Regions from separate parts of the Homo sapiens genome. Here regions 1, 2 and 4 are each linked to region 3. Evidence: fine-mapped expression QTL. A gene starts in region 3. Each other region holds a variant in brackets. All regions are shown on one strand. Distances are from middle to middle.

Region 1 (5,147 bases), 860 kb after region 3:
TTTCCAGTCAATCCTCTCCAGTTCGAATTGGCATGATGTCATCAATACAGTGAACCAGCGTAATATTCTATAGACCATCCAGGTGATGAAGGCCCATTAGGCCTACATTGTGACAGAGAAGAGAGGGTTAACATCAGTCTGGGCCAGACAGTGAACTTATAATGTTATCTCTTCCAAGTGAATGCAAACCGTGTCTGAGCCTCCCCTCTGATGGGGATTGGAAAGAATGCCTTTCTCCCAGGCCAGTGACCACATACAAGTTCCAGAGGCCCTGCTGTCCTGTTGTACTAAGGATACCACGTCTAGCACAGCACCTGGACTACGGGTTACAGCTTGGTTAAGTTTATGTAACCCACTACCATTCACCATAATCCATCTGGCTTCTACTGGGGCCATATTGGTGAATTAAAGTCTCTGAAAGTAGAACTAAATTCCGTTAGTACACCCAGGATGTGGTATGTTTTGCTGGGTTATCTTGGCCATGGGAATAGGGATGATTTTGCAATAAACTTCCCCTTGGCCCTTCCTGCTATTCCAGCTCTTACTCCTGCAATGTACAGCCACCCTGCTTCACAATCAAATGCCAAGGGGATGGCCACAGGGTGGGCCTGGCCCTTCGGTTCCATTATGAATCAGATGTGAACCAAGATTCTGCTTCTACCAGCCCCCATTCTAATGGGGGAGGAGTGATGGCATTTTGTGTCCCCTTTTGTGTGTGTCAGCTCAGGCCCTGGATCTTGCAGCCTTCAAGGGGCCTGGGCATCTCCTGTCGTGAGTCTGTGCTTCCTCTGGCAGATGGCCAGAGGTCCCTTTCAAGGAGGCTCCAGGGAGCTGCTGCTGCATGAATTGCAGGTCCCCTCCAAGAGCCAAAGGTGTGAGCTGTGGCTCAGGCACTGAGGGGTCAATGCCCCTGAGAGGCCAAAGATGGAGAATAGGAAATGTCCAATGGGCAGGACCCATGCAGGTCATGGGCTGCAGGCAGGCAGTGCTGGGCTGATGAGAGAATGTGAGTTGTGGGCACAAAGAATGGTAAGGACAGAGTGGGGGTGGCATCAGATGCCAGGAGAGGACACCTTACATCAGAGAGGGGGGATGTTTAGTAGGTTCTTGTACTGCTGTAGACAACTACCTGAGACTGGGTAATGAATAAAGAGGTTTAATTGACTCACAGTCCCGCAGGCTATACAGGAAGCATGGCTGGGAGGCCTCAGGAAACTGACAATCATGGTGGAAGGTGAAGGAGAAGGAGGCATATCTTACATGGCCGGAGAAAGAGGAAGAGAGCAAAAGGAGAGGGGGAGGGGCCACACACTCAAAAAACCAGATCTCATGAGAACTCACTCACTATCATGAGAACAGTAAGGGAGAAATCCACCCCCATGATCCAATCACCTCCCACTGGGCCCCTCCTCCAACACTGGGGATTACAAGTCTACCTGAGACTTGGGTGGGGACACAGATCCAATTCTACCTGAGATTTGGGTGGGGATACAGATACAATCCATATCAGGGGCCACTTCCACGGGGACGGGAAGAAGCAGATGGGAGTAGTCCTGGGCAGGTGGGCTCATGGCTGTGTGTGCACCCTCAGTTGGCTTTAGTTTGCTCTAAGAACGAGGTAGGAGGTGGGGATGCCTGGGGAAGGGGGTCATTCACAGAGAATGGAGAAGACTCAAAATTATCCATCAGCACATGAGCCTTTTCTACTTCTAGGGGAAATATTTTCCACACTGATATACAAAAAGTGGACAGTACCCTTTCTGCTGTGTATACCCAGCACATTCATTTTTTCAAAACCAAATATACAGCATTTCGTCACCAAGGAATGGCATACAGTGCAGGCAGGGCCAAGTCCTCAGCTCCAGGTCTCCTGCCGATGCTGTTTGCTTGACAACACCACGTGGCTGGGTCAACATGCACCACATGGAGAGCTTGGCACCTGCATCCAGGCCCTGACCCAGGGAGGAGGTGCTCCAAGAGGCCTGCCCTGCCCCACCAGGCACTGAAAGACTCTCAGAGGCCACTGCTGGGGACAAAATCCCTCCACTACCCCCTCAAGGAGAAGCCCGTTTCTTCTTCCAAACATCCCAGGAGCCTCCCATGGTGCAGTGCAGAGTCTGTTGGGGAGCCAAGAACAGGTGGCTGAGACCAGGTGGCCCAGCTCAGCTCTCCTCGCCTCCCAGAGTCCTGGTCTTCTGGAAGATGCTCTGCATGGCAGAGATCCGGTCCTTATCCTGGATGTTGAAGACCTGGAACTACAGGCAGGGTTGCAGGGGAGAAGGGTTACAGGGACCCCTGGAGCCCATGATAAGCTCTCAGGGCCGAGAGCACAGCGTGGAACAACTGGCCCTCCCTGGGCCATGCCGGGCCTTCCTGCCCCGGGTATCTGCCTGGACAGGCATCCTAGAGGCGGAGCGGCCCCAGCCTCTGCTGCTCCCTGAGCCCCTCCTCACACACGGCGTCCCTGGCATGGGCCTACACTGAGGAGGAGGCCCCACACGGTGCTGCTTGAAGGCTGCCTCCGGTGACCACCCCACCCTCACCGCACCCTGCCCACACAGGTCTGCTGAGAGCACAGAGCATGGCCTTTGCCCCCTAATCTGCAGGCTCTGGGGTAAAAATTCTTAAGTGTTGGGCATGAGGGGAGGCCCCAGGAGGCCATCAGCATCTCAACAGGCGGAAGTTTGCTAAATTAGGATAGGAGATGCCCAGCAGAGGGTGGCTACCCTGGGGCCTCACTGCCACTAGGAC[A/T]CAGGAGAGGGTGGCTGAGAAACCCCTGTTTGTGCCCTGGAAGGAGATTGTGTTTGCTCCTGGGATGAGGGTGAGGGCCGGGCCCTGGGCGAGGAGCAGGGTGGACTCCAGGCAGGCTCAGCAGAGGTGGCAGAGCCTGGGCCACAGGGAGGGGCAGTTGGTGGAGCCTCCAGGCACCCACGAGAAGTGGCCCAGGGGACACAGGGTCCCAAGGAGCACGGCTGTGGATTCTTGAGTCCAGGGAGAAAAAAATGGTCCCTCTGGGGCCCAGGTAAGGCCATATCCCTTCATGAGGAATGGAACTCCAGGGTGGGCAGCTGGGGCTCTGAGCATTTACCAAGTGTGAGCTGGGGGGCAATTCTGGTGGGAAACAGAAGCAGGGTCAGACCCACTGCCCTGGTTCCAGGGAGAAGCCCCAGGCCCTGTGAGGCCACCAGTGAGGGGACCCCCACGGCCCGTGTGACCCCCAGACATCACATGTCCCCGCAGACGCTCTCCATCCGAGCCCTGACCTGGCCTCAGCATTCCTGGGGCTGCTGACCTGGGAGAGAATGGGCAGGGAGCCAGGCCAGGGCTCCATTCCACCCTCCCATGCCCCCGGGCCTGCCCAAGGCCCCCGCAGCCAGCACCCACCTTGTCCAGCAGGACGTCGAAGTAGGCAGTGGCCCAGTAAGTGGGGTCACTGGCTGGCAGCTGCAGGAGCGCCTTGAGCCCGGAGCCGATGCGCGGCGGGGGGCTGCGGCCCAGGTGGGTGGCGTGGATGCGCAGGGCCGCCTCGGGCTGGCTGGCGAAGCCCTCCACGCGCTGGTAGATGGCACCAAGGTCCAGGCCGCTGCCCTGCAGCAGGTTGCGCTGCGGGTGGAGGAAGTGGGGCAGCTTCCGCGTGGCCAGGCAACAGAGCAGCACCACCAGCAGGCGGTACACGGCGCCCTGCAGTTCTGCCCAGTCCTCGGGCGCCAGGAAGAGCACAGAGGCCCACAGCAGCACCATCTGCAGGACAGCAGGGTCAGCCCTGGCCTCCTGGCCCACCCGGCCCACCCTGTGCTCCCACCCTGCGCTCCCACCCTCACCCTGGCTGCCCCTCCCTGCTCCTACCCACACCTCTTCCTACCCTGTGCCCTCCCCTCCACGTCCCAGTCGGAGTCCCAGGCCCCTCCCACCCGCTGCCCCCAGCCTGCTGGCTCCCGAAGGCATGAACCCCTCTCTCTCCTCCCCTGCCTGGCTCTGGCCCTCGCACCCCACCCCAGCTCCTCCTTTCACCCCCCAGGACCTCCCTTGGGGGCCTCTGCAGCTCCCAGCATCCTCTGGGCCTTTCTCTCCTTCCCTCCGCCCCTTTGAGCTCCTACTCACCCCCTGCAGCCCAACCCAACGGGCCCATGGCATTGTCACAGTCCTAGCCTGTGTGCTCATGACCCCTGGCCTGAACCACAAGACCTGAGCTGCCTGCGGCCGTTCCAGACACCCTTACCCTCCATCCTGCCCCAGGCCCTGTCTCACAGGCCCTGTCTCACAGCGGCTTTTCAAACCCTCTTCTCCCATGGCCTCTCACCCTGCAGTTGAGTTTGGGGCTTGGGAACCACCATGCATCCAACCTCAAGGGGGGCTGGAAGCTCCAGGTCAGGTGGGGGCCTGAGAGGGCATGGCCAGAGGTCACCTAGGGACTCCGGACACCAGGAGGGGCACCTCTCCCTCAACACTGAGCCAGGTGGAGGGGCCAGCCCCATCTGTGGAGCAGCGCCCGGCTGGCCACACACTCCAGGAAGGGGCCAGCCGAGCAGACCCCAAGACAGCACAGCCCCCACCTGCTTCCTCGGGGTTGGGGTGGGTTGGAATCCCTGGCCCCTGCCTGTTCCTTGTTCTTCTCAGCATCTGATGTTACAAAGCCCCAGAAGGACAGGGTTCTGCAGAATGTCACTGTGGCCCAGGAAGCAGAGAGAAGGGTGTGCCTGGACTCTCCTGGGAACCCCCAGAGGGAGGTGTCCCAGCCAGGTGACATTCCCAGACACTGGGAGGAGGCTGGCTGGGCGGGAACACTGGGCTCTGTGAGGCCCCACCCTGAGATTCTACCCAACAGTGTCCCAGGGCCAGGAGGGCCTCCGAGGTCACGGCCTAGGGATGGCGAAGGCCAGCCTGCGGCACCACGGCACCCGCGGCCACATTCCCTTGACCCTCAGGAGCCACGGCCTCACCTCCTCAGAACCTGGGCAGGCCCTCAGAATCCCCCCAACTCCGACTTGGGACTCATAGCAGCTGCCTGCCAGTCAGGGCTGGCAGGAGGGACACGCCTGGGTGCACCTACCCCTGGGCCCTGGTGACAGACAACCCGCCGAGTCCCGCCCTGGGTACCTTCAGGTGGCCAAAGGTCAGGCCGTCAGTCTGGCCACTGTCACGCCAGC
Region 2 (5,147 bases), 75 kb before region 3:
TGAAGCCCGGTGCTCAGCAGGTAGTGTGGGTGGGATCCTGGGTAAGGAGCTGGGATCCAGGCTGCAGTGCAGCCCCTTCCTCATGGGTACAGAATCCCTGGAGGCCTAGGCCAGGCCATCTGGGGCCGTCCCGCCTGCTCACACTGCTTAGACCAAGGCCCTGGACATTATCTGGCAGCAGGCATCCGAGCCTGGGAATACCAAGAAGTCATACCAGGACAGCCCTATACCAATGCAGGTGCCTAAGGCCTACATCCCACACCAACTCCCAGAGCCCCCAGGGACAGAGCTCCTGAGGCCCACAGAGGAAAATGGCTCAGTGACTGTCCTGTGTGCCTGCCTTCTGCACGCCCCGCTGGGCTTCCTGCAGCCACAGCCAAATGCTCGGCCTAAGGAAGAAGCTGGACAAAGACCGGGAGGCAGCTGCTACCAGATACAGACAGGGACAGTCCCTGCCTCACCAGGGCCCAGTAAGCCCCGCCCTCTCTGCGCACCAGACACAGACAGGGACGGCTCCTGACTCTCTGAGGCCCAGAGCAAGCCCCGCCCTCCCCGCCGAGCCCCAGGCCTCCAGGCCCAGGGTCCTGTGAGGGTCCTCCCGGGGCTCCTCTCACACACCGGCCTTCCTGCTGCCGTGAGCTCCTCCATCCACTGAAGGCCTCAAAGACTATGCAACAGGCCAGCCCAGCTCTTGTTGCCAGATGGCAAGAGGGATGAGGGCTCCAGGAAGCACGGGGTGGTGCCTCAACACGCCCACGGCAGCGACATAACCTGTGGCCCCCAGTGCAAGATGAAAACGGGAGGCTCTGGTCCAAAACTTGTTCAGACTTTCAGGACGGCCACAGCTGAACATTAAATCAAGTGTGGGCCCTTCTTGAGCGTGGGCACTGGGTGAACATGGAGGTCACATGTGCATAGGTGGCCCTGCCCTTCAAGCTGGTCTTCCGAGGCCAAGTTAGCCAATTTACATCCTCTGGTGGTGAGGTGGAGGAGGTGAGGTCGGGGGACAAGCTCTGTCGTCACTACAGCTGTTTGAGCAAAAGTCCAGAGGTTCAGTTAACGGCAGCAAGGTTCAGGATTGTGTACAATTCTTAGGGAAATAGCAGCTCATTTCCACCAACACTTAAGAGCTAGAACCTCCTGGGCCCTGCCCACACGTCCGTCCCTCTTCCCAGCCTCAGCCACGCATTCCAGAGACGAAGCCAGGCTGTGCTCCGGACAATGGCCTCCAGGCTGCTCTTCTCCCTTTGGCCCCTCAAGGCCCTGTTCAGAGGCTCCCTGTGGTCTCATTCAAGGCTGCTCTGCAGCTGGGTCCTGAGCCCCCAGGGGACAGAAAGTAACCGACATCTCCACAGCCTCCGCTCCATGAGTGGCGACGGAAAAGTAACAGGCGTTCAAAACATGCACTCACTTGACGTTGTTCAGGGTCTACAGCCCACTGTCCATTTTGCAGCTGTAAGTGGAGTCGCTGGAAAACCCAATGTAAAAAGCAGCAGGCCTGCCCGAGCAAAGCTGCCAAGGCTAAAAGCCCCAGCCATCTTGAAAGCACAAATACACGTCGGTGGGACCCGGATCCTGACTCGAGCCTCCAGCGTTCCAAATACAAGGACAAACTAGGGATTGCAAAGGTGGCTCAGATGCCAGCCTGACGACGCAACTCAGTATGTCCCTTCATCTTCCACAAATCCAGGCCTCCAGTGTCTGGGACAGAAAAAACTAGAGCCAGCCGAGGTGGCCCTCCCTCCTTGGGGACTTCACCAAGCCTCGAGCCATCCTGGCCTAGGCAGGAGCCAGCAGAGGCCTGTGTATTTATTTTGCAGGGAACAGTTCACACAAAGATAAAGCGTGCAGGAGTCCAGAAGAGAAGGCTCTCTACTTCAAATGCAGTGTCTCAGAAGTCACAGGGCACCCCCTTCTGCCCCTGGAGCCCCCAACCCTTCCTTGCTCCCCTGGAGCCCCCAACCCCAAGCTTCCTGCCTTGCAGGCTTTCTCATTGCTTTAACCCCACGAATGCAATGGACACATGTCCCTCTTTGGGACGGACGTATGAGAGCTCATTATGACCAGGATAGTGTCGGGATTTTAAGGTAAAATCAAAGCAAACCAACTGCTGATTGAGCGACTTCTTCCAACACTGATACGGATAGGAGCTTGGGGCAGGAATGAGCACCAGCATTTGTGTCTGAGGAGTGAGATGCACGGCTCGGAGGGCGAAGCGAGTTAGCAATTGTACAGATCAGCTTTAGACATCCAACCCGACTGGACTACAGCTGCCCAGGTATTTGGTCAAACAAGATTTTTGGGGTGTATCTGTGGGGGATGAGATCAGCATGTGACCTGGTGGATTCGGGAAGGCAGGCGGCACTCCCCAGCGTGGGCAGGCATCCTCCAGTCCACTGGGGGTCTGGAAAGAACAGAAAGGTGGTGGAAGAAAGAATTCCCACTCTCTGCCTGTTTTTTGTTTTTTGCTTTTGTTTGTTTGTTTTTTAGAGACAAGGTCTTCTCTGTTGCTCAGGCTGGAGTGCAAACTCCTGGGCTCAAGCAATCCTCCCACCTCAGCCTCCCACATAGCTGGGACAACAGGCGCGTGCCACCACACTTTTACTTTTTGAAGAGACAAGGCCTCATCTATGTTGCCCGGGCTGGTCTCCAACTCAGCCTCAAGCGATCCTCCCACCTCAGCCTCCCAAAGCACTCGGATTACAGGCGCGAGCCACCATACCTGACACTGGCCTGTTGAGGTGGGACATTGGTCTTCCCTTGGACTGGAACTTGCACCACTGGCTCTCCTGGGTCTCCAGCTTGCAGACAGCAGATCTTGGGGCTTCTGAGCCTCCAGAATCCTTGTAACTGTCTCCATATCTGTTCATCCTGTGGGTCCTGGTCTCAGGAGAGCCCTGACTGAGCCTGAA[C/T]CTGGACTCACCACATTCCATCTGGGAGACTGGGGAGGTCCCACCCTAGAGCCTATTTTCTTACGTACATAATGGGAGAAAAATCAGGCCGTCCCCACCTGCAGCCAAGCTTGCTGTGAGAATCTAGGGAGGGGGCACACCTCAGAGTGGGCTCACGAAGTGGTGGCAGAGATTTAGAAAGGTTTCCAGTCCTTATAGCCCCTCCGCCCCATGCTGTGTGGCTTTGGTCCACCCTCAGCAGTACAGGCTGGCCCTGTTATAAAGAAGCTGAGATGATGCATCTCCTACAGCCAGACGGCTGCCCACCACTCACAGCTTCCTCAGGGATCCCTCAGGCCCCCGAGTCCTTGAGCGGGCAAGAGGTCTCCTGTGGGCATGCCTTGGCCCAAGCAGGAGGCTCAGGGCTCCCGACCCACCACCTTCTTTTTCAGACGGCTCCAGTCCACCAAGCTGCCCCCTCGGGGCATGACCTTTGGAAATCTGAGGAACGGTTCCTCCTTGCTCCCCGAAGACTCTGTTTTTAGGCATCTGAAGTGTAGATGTAAACATTGACCTTTCCCACTTGTGTTTAGACCTGGTGTCCTCGGTGTAAGGACCCCACACACGGATGAGAGCTCATTATGACCAGGATAGCGTCAGGATTTTAAGGTAAAATCAAAGCAAACCAACTGCTGATTGAGCGGCTTCTTCCAACACTGGTACGGATAGGAGCTTGGGGCGGTGTAAGGGCCTGTGCATGTCACATGGCCACCACGTGCAGGTGAGTGGCAGCCGCACGCCTGTCTGTCCCCGTGGTCGGCTGTGCAGACCCCTGCTCGTGCCTGCAGCTTCATCCCAGTGTCACAGAAACACCACACAGCTCCATTCTGTGATTCAAGTAGGTGCCTGTCTAGTTGTGTGACACTGTCCAACAATTACGGGGCAATTGTTCCCACTGCTCCCATGACTGCTTCAAAGAGGTTTCAAGTCAGCGTCCCACTGGCCACCTGCTGGCCAGGGCTTCCAGTACGTTCCGCTTCAGCCCCTCGTTCCTTTGTCAGGTAGTTGCTGAGCCTGGAAGGAGTGCAGAAGGGCCCTGCTTCAGAGGATTATTGGCTTTTGAAGTGAAAAACCCTAAAACAATGCTGACACTTCCCGTTTCAGTCTCATCTCTGAGTCTGGATTTTCACTGGGGCTCTGGGGCCCTTTCCAGCAAACATCTGACCACAAGACATCAGAAGGAGAGGCTACTATTGAGACAGGGAACCCTGCAGCGATGGGACCCGGGGTGCCCACAGGGCGTGCGGGAGGGGCCTCGGGAGGGCCACACGCTCCTGTGCTGCTGCCCTGGAGACAGGGACAATGGCTGCGTCAGCCACCCGTGGGTTACAGAGGACAGCAGGGGGAGAGACGCAGACATTGATGACTGAGTCGTCGAAGGTGGTTGAGATTGGGAAGAAAGTGGGGCCAGGGTCTAACGAGGCCGTTTCTCTTGTGTTCTCAGGCCTCACTTCTGAGCCTCCATAAAAGAAAAAATGCCCGTGCTGGGCAGCCGTGTCCCAGGGATGCCTGGTCAGGGTCCTCCTCTCGCCACACCCTCCCTGGGTCCCCTCAGCACCCAGTACAGGATGTGCCGGACACTGAGAAGCAGCTATGATGGAGGGGCGGCAGGCTTGGTCACAGCCGGGCGTGGAGAGTCAGGCATCTTTAAAAAACAGGGTCTAGGAAGACTCTAATGGCAAGTAAAAGAAAATGTATATAACTCTAAAGCTATCTTCCTTGTTCATTCCTAAAATTCCTAAATTTTCAGAAGTGATCATAAAGTATTTGTGTAACTAAAAAGGGGAAACAAGCCAGAGGGGTTCCCAGGCCTGGTCCCAACGGCACACCGAGGCCTCCGGCCTGGCCATGCCCTGGGCAGCGGGAAGGACAGTGGGACCCAGGAACACGAGGGCCCTGCTGACGCCTGCCCAGGCTCCTGCCTGGCTCTGTCCCTCTCGAGACCTGAGATGGTGCATGCCCTTTGGTCTCTTTCCCTCGGTAGGTGCTGTGGCATGGGTCCTGGGGTGTGGGCCGGCAGGGGCCAAAGGCTGCTGCCTGAAGTCCCACACCCACTAGAGGTCTGCACAGGAGCCGCCTGTGAGCCCACGGGATGAACCAGCAACACATGTGCCACACCTGCTCGCAGAGGGCAGACAGCCTGGCTGCGTCCTGGAATGGGGGCTTGGTGGGGCAGACCTGCAAGCCCAGGGAGAG
Region 3 (5,147 bases):
TGCTATTTCTTTTGCAAGTTTGCCTTTTCCAGTACATATATTGCCATCTACAGTTATCACTCTGCTGCGTTCTGTCAGTCTTTTGCTTGCTTTATCCCCAAGTAGGAAATGCCACATTCCATAGCGCAGTTTGCACTGCACACTGCTATGAATTCCTCTCTGAAAAACACAAAATCACACAGCAGCACATTGTGACCACTCTGGTTCCTGTAGGCATTAGTAACTATTAGGTAAAAATACCAAGAAACCTCTTAGTGATAAAAATGCCAACATCTACATCTTTATTGCCTATTAATTTGTTTAATTATCTGTCTATCCCCCACCACTCTGTCCATGTAAGTTTCGTTAAAGGCAGATATACTGTCTGTTTGTTCACTGCTAAATCCTCAGGCCCTGGAACAATGCCTGAAATTTTTATTAAATATGTTTACTATGTTCAATAAAAATTGGAGGGAGGGAGGGAGGGGTGGATGGATGGATGGATGGACGGACAGACGGGAGGAAGAAAGACAGGGATGGAGGGAAGCTCAGGAGTGAAGGGAAGGGAATAAAAAACATTTCTCTAATCCAAGCTTCTGTCCCCATGTCCTGACCTCGTTACCCCACTGCCTATTAAACAGCTCCACCTAGATGTCCTGAAGGCACCTGAAGGTAACAGAGCTAAGGTGAAATGCAACATCCATATCCTAGCCCCCAAGTCTGCTTTCCCTCACAGCAAGGAATATCCACTACCTAACAAGCAAAAGAGAGCAAATTTGAGTGTCGTCTTTGATACCTTTCTCCTTCCTTCAACTGCAGAATTACACACAAAATCCTAACTGTTCAGACTCTCTGGACACTGCATCGCCTCCCTATGCCATGTGCTGACTCTGTCGGCACCCTCACACCTCTCATCTACAAGGCAAAGACCTGCTTCAATGCCTGTCTCCAGCAGCCCAATTTACTCTCCACACTAAAGTGGGAACATTCCTTCCAAAAAAAGAAAAGAAACATAACCAAAAGTAAAACAAACTGAAGAAGTTCAACAGATATGATGGGGTAATAACCTTACTATATACAGAAATTGTACAGAACAATAAGAAAACAAAGAATAAAAACACACAGCTTATTTTAAAATTATAAAATATAGCCAAAAACCACATGAAAAAGTGGTCAACCTTGCTACAAAAAAACAAAAGACTATTAACAAGGAAACATTAGTTTTTCATGTGTCAAAATGAGAAATAATTTAAAAAATGATTACAGAGTTAGGACAAGACAATGAGTACCATCCTAAACTGCTAATGGTAATGAAACCTAGAGGACGCTGGGTCTACAGCATTAGGAATCCATTCAAAGAGTATATACATAAGATTGACCTATAAGGATGCTCAATGAAGTATGATGTAACACCAAAAATGCAAATAGAAACCCTTAAATGTCCAACAACGGAGGAATAGTTAAACAAAATTAAGGCATATCCATATTATGGAATACTAAGTACTCAGAAAAACACAAAAATATTAAAATACTTTATAGTGAAATTTAAATAAAACAGGAGAATATGAAATATCAAGATATTTTTCGATCTTGATTTGATAACTGAAGAGTAAGGAAGAAACAAGTTACAAAACAAGGCAAAGCAGACAACCCAATTTAAAAATGGGCAAAAGATGTAAACACCTCTCGCAAATGAAATTAACGCAGATAGCAAATAAGTATATGAAAAGATGAACACTGTATATCATGAGATATTCCAAAGTTGAAACAAGATACCACTACGCAGCTATCAGAATGGATAGCAATCCAAAGTAACCGACAGCCCCGCATGCTGGCGAGCACGCAGAGCAACAAGGAGAGCCTTCACTTCTGGTGGGAGTCAAATGGCACAGTCACTCTGGAAGATGGCTTGGCAGCTTCTTAGAAAACTAGTCTTACTACATGAGTAATCGCTCTTCCAGGTATTACCCAAATGATATAAAAATGTATTTCCAAAAAGAAATCTGCATGTACACGATTACAGCAGCTTTATTCATAATTGCCAAAAACTTGAAGCAACCAAGATGCCCTTCAATTGCTGAATGAATTGAAGTACATCCATGCAATGAGATATTACTCAGTGATTAAAAAGAAATGAGTTACCAAGCCACGAAGACATAAGTGAATCTTACATAGATATTTCCAAGTATTCAAGGCGTCTGAAAAGGCAATATATTGTATGATTCTAATTATATGACATTCCAGAAAAGGCAACTATGGAAATGTTAATGAGATCTGTGGTTGTCAGGGGTTGGAGAAAAAGAAGGGTTTAATAGGTAAAGCAGAGGGGAATTTTTTAAGGCAGTGAAGCTACTCTGTACGAACCTATAATGGTGGAGACATGCTATTACACACGTGTCAAAACCTATAGAACCTTATAGCACAAAGAAAAAATCCATAGAACCTTATAGCACAAAGAATGCGCTCAATGTATGCACATTTTAAAAAACGCATTAGGTAGAAGGATCCCAAGATGTAAGGCAGAATGTGACAAAGCAATCCAACTGTGTTACAAATGTATGAAACGATTTCACTGAAGAAGGTGGGGGCAAAATGCTAAGAAATGAGAGTAGTCAGTCAGAGTAAAGGCAAAAGGAAGCGGACACAAGCACTGAACTCCGTGTCTGCTCAACATGGCATCACCCAAGCACCCAGCAGGGCCCGACCTTTAAACGGCTCTTGACAGGGCTGCTACGTGAATTATCTAATGACAAGCGCGTGTGCCCCCGGCCTGCCACCTGCACACGGGCCTCCCGCATCAGGGCAGCCTCGGGGCCCTGATCACCTCCGCGCTCCAGCGTTTTGCTTAAAGCTGAGATAAAATGGCCTGGAGAAGCTCGTGGCCCCCTGAGGTCTGTCCACGACCAAAGACCAAACAATTCCGGAGGCAGGAGGGGTCCCCCAAACCCACCCGGAGAGCGACCTGGGAGCCGCCGCCAGAGGCCGGGGGAGATGTGGAACTGCTCCCCACCCCGCCACCCCGCCACCCTGCCACCCCGCCACCCTGCCACCCCGCCGCCCGCTCACCACGCGCTGGGCGCCCGCCGCCACGACCCGGGCGGACGCGGACGTCGCTGCCAGCTTCAGGAGCCGCAAGGCCATGGCTACCCGGTCAGCTCAGGATCAAGGACCCAAGGGGACGCGGTCGCGACGGGGCCCTCTCTCGCGGCCGGCGCGCTGCCGTGACGTCACGGCCGGGGTGCCCGCGGCGCCTGTCGGGAACCTTCCAGGGGGCGGGGCCGCGCCGAGGCCCTCGGGGGCTTCCGCGGAGACAGCCAGTGCGCTGCCAGGGTCCTGCGGGTTGGGGCGAGGGCCGAGAGGTGGGAGTTGGAGGTGAACGTGGGGGCAGCATGCTGGCTGCCCGGCCCCTGCCTGGGTTCTGAGTTGCTGCGGTGTCGCGGGAGCTGAGGCCGCCCAGGGCGTGGAGCGACTTCTGCGTCTCGTCCCAGGGTCCTGTGCTCCCCGCAGAATCCCCCAGGCGCGGTGTGGACGTCAAAGCGACCTCCTAGAGAACATTCCTAGCTCTCAGAACGTTCTCGCTGGGGAGGGAAAGTGGAAAAAGAGGGGGCGAGGAGCGGAGGGACGGGGTGGGACCCCTGTCGCGGGGCGCCTGTCAGGGAGAGGGACCTGGCAAGGCCGGCCTGGGTCGCCTCCGGAGCTGAAGGCTAAGTGGTCTCATCCAGGGGACCTGCTGTGAACACATTGAATAGCATAGAAAACAAAAGCACACGCTCCAAGTCCATCTCTTTTTTTTTTTTTTTTTTTTTTTTTTTTTTTTTTTTTTTTTGAGGCAGAGTCCCGCTCTGTCGCCCAGGCTGGAGTGCGGTGGCGCCATCGCGCTCACTGCAAGCTCCGCCTCCCTGGTTCACGCCATTCTCCTGCCTCAGCCTCCCGAGTAGCTGGGACTACAGGCGCCCGCCGCCACACCCGGCTAATTTTTTGTATTTTTAGTAGAGACGGGGTTTCACCATGTTAGCCAGGATGGTCTCGATCTCCTGACCTCGTGATCCACCCGCCTCGGCCTCCCAAAGTGCTAGGATTACAGGCGTGAGCCACCGCGCCGGCAAGTCCATCTCTTAAAATGTGCTCCCGTCAGGACCTGGGCTCTGGGCTCCACGAAGGAGCCTTGCATGTGAGGTTTCCTTCCAAGTATGCCTGCTGTTGGGAAGGGTTTTTATAATCTTTTGTGTTCCCCAGGCTTTTTGTTCTTAACCCCTTAAATATTCTTTAACTTTGTTTTCAACTTTTCAGAAATGATCATGCGATTGTAAAACAGTGGGAATGCAGCTGTGTAAACTACGGCCGGTTCTATGGATGTTTCTATAATTGAAGAATTGCTTTTTGTCAAAAATACGGATTCCCGGTCCCCAACGCAGGAGGGTCTGGTTTTTAGATCCTGGAGGGCACCTGAAATCCATTTAACAAGCTTTAGGGTTCATGTCTGCTGTTTTTTGCCTTGTTTCCTTTGCATTTTTTTTTTTTTTTTTTTTTTGTGCCTTCCAATGGATACAGTACATTTTTTTAGAATTCCATCTTGATTTACTGATAATGTCTTGGGAAATATCATTATGTATAGTTTTCGTAGTGGTTCCTCTAGGTATCACAGCACGCAGACGTAACTTCTCACAACCTGTTTGCGTGGATGTTTTGTTGTACCTGAGCGAGTTAGAAAAACACCACCTTTGAGACGAATTAAGAGTCCTTTATTAGCTGGCGACCGAGAGACGGCTAACGCTCAAAATTCTCTCAGCCCCGAGGAAGGGGCTTGATTAACTTTTATACCTTGGTTTAGGAAGGGGGGGGGGTCTAGTTAAAACAATTTTACAGAAGTAAAGTAGTCAAAAAGTTAAAAGGGTAAATGGTTACAGGAAAGTAAACAGTTCAAGGTGCAGGGGCTTTAAGACTATTACAAGATGATAGACCCGGGGCTTTGGGCGTTATCAATCGGACAAATTCCTGGGAACTGCGGATGTAGCTTGCCACAGTATCTTACCAGTTAATTGCATTCTTGGATGTGGTGGGAGTCAGCCTGCACAAGTTAAGTCCTTGAGAAAGGGGCTGCCAGTGAAAGAGCCAAGATGGAGTCTGTCTGGCTCTCTTAGCTAAGGGAGAGTCAATTCAGGTGGAAA
Region 4 (5,147 bases), 45 kb before region 3:
ACTGGAAGCCAGGTTCAGGGATAAGGAAACACAGACAAGAGAGACAGCAAGTCTAGAATGGGCAACTGGACCTTCTTCCTAACAGTAACGAAGGCCACTGGACCCCAACTGCCGTCTTCTCGTGTTGTTCAAAGTCACCCATCCATTGGCAGGTGCAGGTGGGCGAGCACAGGCACCTGGGATCCGGAGCCCCATGAGCTGCCACTGCTCCTGCCAGCGTCCCGCCACTGTCCCTGAGTATGGCGTGCTAGGCCCTCTAACTCGCCCCTGACACTGCTCCTGTTTCTGGAGTCCCCATTTAAGGGTGCAGTTGATGGGAAAGAGCAGGCTTCCCAGACACCTAGAAGAGGCAGCCAGGCCCTTCACGCAGGTGAGAGGATTCACAGGGACCTGAACCACTGTGTGGAGATCTGACTCCACGAGTGCTCCACAGCTGGACGACCGTGCCCCTTAAAGGCCAGTCAAGACATCTCCAAAACCAATCTGTTCCAGAGAGACTCATTAGCCATCACATCCAGGATGTTCAACCATGTATATTTATAATGTTAAGCACACAAACTGCTGCTTTCACGCTAGGAGAACGTAAATATGACACATCAAATGGCTGTAATCTACTGTCTGGAACTGGCCCTGTGATGTGAAGAGCACCAGTGGATTTTAATCAAGGAATGAGATGCTTCAATGACAATGGCCAACGTGGTCACTGGGCCTGGTCAACCACCCAGCATGGGTCAGCTGGCTTTCTCAGCTACGCTCGCAGCACCCTGGATGTAGGTTCTGTGCCTCCACTCCACACATGGCCAATCCAACAGAGTGTCTCCCCATGGGAGGAAAGAGCCCTCACCCACCCCTCCAGCCTCCCCTCAGCAGACTAGGTTGGGGTCCTATGAAACAAACAGTGATCTGGCCTGGCCACGCCTGCTTGGTGAACTGGGATCTCTGATGAGCTGAGAGGCCTCCCTGCCTCTGGGATCCCTGCTTGGTGAACTGGGATCTCTGAGGAGCCAAGAGGCCCCCCTGCCTCTGGGATCCCTGCTCCATCAACGGTCCCATTCCTCTCTTGCATCTTTTCCCTCTTTCCACAAGCACTTACCCTTTTGCCTATAAACACACTGAGAATGCCTTAGCCCTTAAAAACAAGACAAAATAACAAGCTATAGAAGATGGAATCTCTAATTCCCACCAGTCTCCTGACACTTCTCTCAAGGTTCACCTATGACCTGGTCATCAACGCAGTATCCTGGGCATGGTCAACCTTCACCACCCCTGACCTTCCTGCGGCCTCTGACAGACACTGAAGCTCCTCTACAGGCTCCTCTGCTGGCGCCCAGGGCCCACACAGTCTGGCCTGCCTCCTAATACTCTGGCGAGCTTGGTCCTCTTCACCAGCTCTTCTTCCTTTCAGCAGAAAGCTCTTCTGACCAACCCCGATTGGATCACTCACAAGCCAGCCTACACAGGACACCAAGTGGCAGGACCTGCTCCCACTGGCCCACAGGCACTTCTGTCCCTCCCACCAAGTGGTATGAGTCAGTGGTCTGTTTCCCAGCAGCGACGCCAGTTGTACTTGTCATTGCAATTGCAAAATTTAATTAAATGTTATGAAAACTACGCGTCTGAAAAGGAAGAGCTGCTGTTCTGTTAAAACTAGGCTGAAACACTTTGGAACCATTTGATGAAGGTGAGTCGCTAAAATAAGGTCTATTGAAATAGGTGTGGGCGAACCACCTGTAGGTGATTTGGGGAAGAATTCTGTCTTCCCACCGTTTGTATGCTTTTTAGAAACCTAAAAAAGGAGTTTCTGCTTATAAAAGAACTTGAGCTCTAATAAAAAAGTATCTTAAAAGACATGGAGCTCTTTTCATGTGAAAGTTAGAATAACGGCTTTGTTTCAATATATAAGCTCCAAACAGATTTCAGAAATTAGCTCAGACACAGGGTGGGCGAGCCTCCCCAGCGTCACACCACTCCCTGAGAAGTGTGCTCCTGTGTAACCCTTTCTGGGCTCATCCATCCATCAGTAAATTAAATTAAACATAAGGGTCAGGAAAAGATCCATGAGGAAGTATGCCTGGGATTCCTAAATTAAAGCCTTTACACCAAAGTTCCTTTGTTACAAACGGCAAATTCCTATCTTAGAACCCCACCCCACAGCCCACCCCACCCAGCTGCCACTACCTGTCTCTATTGTGCTTTATAGTTAGACCCCAGTGCTGGCTGAACTGGCTCCACCCCTCTCCTCCAGTCACACACACAACTCTGCAGGAGAGGCAACACAGCAGAGGCCCAGGGCTCCACCGTCCGGTGAGGAAAGGCCACCACCAGGCCCTCAGCAGCCCGCTCCCCACCCTGCACCTCTTCCCTGACTCCCTCTGCTGGAATCCTTCAGCAATAGTCTGCTTAATTTTGAAAACCTAAAAAGCAAGAAGCAACTTGGCTGGGCAAGGAGGGGCAACAATGCCCCTGTTAAGTGGGGGCTCTCGGGAA[AAG/A]AGACAGTGCCTACTCTCAGCGCCCCCGCCCATAGCACCAGCACTCTCACCTGCACCACCAGGACCCTCCCTGACCGCCTTGGCCCTCTGCCTTTGCCCCCACAGTTGATACTCGACGTGGCAAGCAGAGCAACCCTTTAAACCTGAGACCCAGATGATGCCACTCTCTGGCGCACCAACGCCACCACCTCACCAGGAGTACCGCTGAACTGAGGTCCCCGTGGCAGCTGCGGACCCCGGCTGACCTTGGCCTGCTGCCTTTTCAGCTCACTCCCTGCTCAAGCTCACCCCACCCGCATCACACCTCACCATGACGGGCTCTTCTCTAGCTCCAGACCATGTCCACCTGTTCCTGCCTTCCGGGGGGTGCCTGCTCCCCTACACCCCCACATCCCTCACTCCCCTGTGGCGCCTGCTCCCCTACACCCCCACATCCCTCAGTCCCCTGCGTCAGGTGCCTGAGACCTCTCTCCACATGGCAGCCTCCTCGCTGTGCTTTCTCCAAGACCCTGGCACCCTGTTACCTGTCTATCATCTGTTCTCCCTGCCCACTAGGAGGTGAGCTGCATGAGGGCAGGGCTTGGCTTCACTCTCGGGTGTGGCCCCAATGCTTACAACAGTGCCTGGCACGATAAAGATCTAATCAGGGCTAAGTGCAGAAGTGGTAGGACACTGGGATGACACTGTCGGGCAGGGGGTCTGAAATGTCAGGCTTGGCAGCAGGTATTGGGATAAACTGTCATTCCTACTACCTTAGCACTCCCAAGATGCCTGACTCTATCTCTGGGATAGAACTCAGATTAAATTAAAAGGCAAGAATTCTTTGATCAGCCAGGTTTCCCTTCTGTGCCTTCGGGGTTGGGGATTTAATCAATTCTGCATTCTGGGGGACTGTTCATTGGGTAAATACCTATTGAGTATATAAAATGTAGACTTTCTAATTCAGACAGGTCCTCCACAGAATGGCTACAGAAAGAACCAGCACCAAAACAGGGTTTCCAGTTATAAAGAAAAATAGGGGAGCCTTCCATTTCTAGCAAAACAGCAGCCCTAATATGCAGAAAAGCTTCTTGATATAAAAACCTCTGGAAATGCTTCTACATGTACAGCTGAGCTCCGCAAGAAATCACAAAGGGCTAAGAAGGAAGAGTGAGTGGAAAAGCCAGAGTGGTGAGCTGAAGCCGCGGTGCCCTCGGGACGCCCAAGAGCTGCAGAGAGCCACAAGACACGGCCTGGTGTCCCTGTGAGGTGACTCCTGAAGGGCCACACCTCAGTGCGGGGAGAAGGCCTCCTGCCAGCAAGGAGACCCCAGCTGGCACCCAGTGGTGAAACCATTCTCCACTGGGAATTCGTAACCAGAGCTTCTCTCCACACAGGTTCGAGGGTTGAAATTTGCATTACCTCCAGGGCCTGGAATACCACAAGCAACAAAGGTGCCATCAATCCCTCCCTGCTCCTCAGGAATCTGAGGCCTGGCAGCAGCAAAGGGTCCTTTCAGGAGTAGGGCTGCCAGGACTGAGAAATCATATAGGATACCCGGTTAAAAACCTTGGGACATACTTATACTAAAATACTAGCTGCTCTCAGTTCAAGCTTACCTTGGCATCCTGTACTTCATCTGGCAACCTGACTCAGGAGGGACCCACTCTCACCAAATGCCCATGGATGGAGCCCCACAGGGCAGAAGCTCTGTACCCAAAGTCTCCAACACAGTCAAGAAAAGAAGCCACCATGGGTGAGAAAAAGAAGAAACAACGAACAAGATCAGACAGCGTCCAGAGCAGCGCTCCAGAGACAGAGCATAAAATAACTAGGTTTAAAATGTCTACAGAGAGAAGCAATGGGGGAATTACCAACAAGGAATAAGATCCTACCAACAAGATGCAAATAGCACTGGCATAAAGAAAAATTCAAATCTAGACCCATCTCACAAAACTACAAAAACACTAAAGTCAGAAAAATCAGGAAAATCCTGGAAGAAAAACGAAGACTATAATCCTTAATCTAAAGAATAAAGGTCAAAGCATTACTCGTTTTCCAAGAATCAGAAGTGCTACCTAATAACTCCTAACCTCCAGGTATCAACAAGGACAATACCCATCATAAAACATGCATGCAACGTCCTGGGCATGTTACAATACACAGACCACCTATTTACAGAAGCACAGTGCAAGTATATTTTAAGTTTCTCATGAAATTATAAGGCATAGTTTTAGTAATTTTATTATTTTTAGAAAATTAATTGGGATTATAGAAATTCTCATGTTAATGGCAGAATTTGGCTAAAACACATATTTTCAACATTAAAAAAAAAAAAGTCTCCCAGAAAGCGAGAAATTGCCTAGCAGGGTAATGGGCTTCTAAGAACCACTGCCATGAAAAGGCATCCATGGCCTCCACTTGCTCCAGGAAATAACCGGCTGCCAACTACCTTCTGCTCTAATAGTCACACGTTCTGTGGAATGTCCTCAAATGCTGTTTGCTCCCCTGCAGCAAACCAGTGACCTGACACGTGTACCTGAAGACCGATGAGAAGGTCTTCCCACCTCCAAAGACCAGTGAGAAGCACTTCAGGACCCTCTCTTGTACTCTGCACAGCCCGCTGCGGGTAGGGGATCCCCAGCTACAAGGTTAGACGAAACAATTCTGTTCACCTCG

The links. PIP is the estimated chance that this variant, and not a neighbour inherited with it, causes the effect.
Region 1: its variant is fine-mapped to the expression of NDUFA10 in adrenal gland (GTEx, PIP 0.92).
Region 2: its variant is fine-mapped to the expression of NDUFA10 in whole blood (TOPMed, PIP above 0.99). The same link has a PIP of 0.9 or more in lung.
Region 4: its variant is fine-mapped to the expression of NDUFA10 in whole blood (TOPMed, PIP above 0.99).

The regions. Positions count from the first base shown.
Region 1 is chr2:240,884,908-240,890,054 of GRCh38, forward strand. MAB21L4 (mab-21 like 4) reads right to left here. Exons shown (of 5, transcript NM_001085437.3): 3 at 5,098-5,147; 4 at 3,385-3,741; 5 at 1,141-2,255. The coding sequence ends at 2,163. Among named protein-coding and RNA genes, the nearest start is that of MAB21L4, 8.7 kb to the right of the region's middle. The variant A/T (reference allele first, on the strand shown) is at 2,752.
Region 2 is chr2:239,947,054-239,952,200 of GRCh38, forward strand. It overlaps a transcript of NDUFA10 not described here. Among named protein-coding and RNA genes, the nearest start is that of MIR4786, 6.5 kb to the left of the region's middle. RefSeq lists an enhancer at 4,103-4,602. The variant C/T (reference allele first, on the strand shown) is at 2,913.
Region 3 is chr2:240,022,182-240,027,328 of GRCh38, forward strand. NDUFA10 (NADH:ubiquinone oxidoreductase subunit A10) reads right to left here and starts at 3,161. Exons shown (of 10, transcript NM_004544.4): 1 at 3,046-3,161; 2 at 1-159. The coding sequence starts at 3,120. RefSeq lists a silencer at 3,088-3,347 and an enhancer at 3,156-3,985.
Region 4 is chr2:239,977,108-239,982,254 of GRCh38, forward strand. The region is part of intron 9 of NDUFA10 (NADH:ubiquinone oxidoreductase subunit A10); the gene reads right to left. Among named protein-coding and RNA genes, the nearest start is that of MIR4786, 37 kb to the left of the region's middle. The variant AAG/A (reference allele first, on the strand shown) is at 2,488.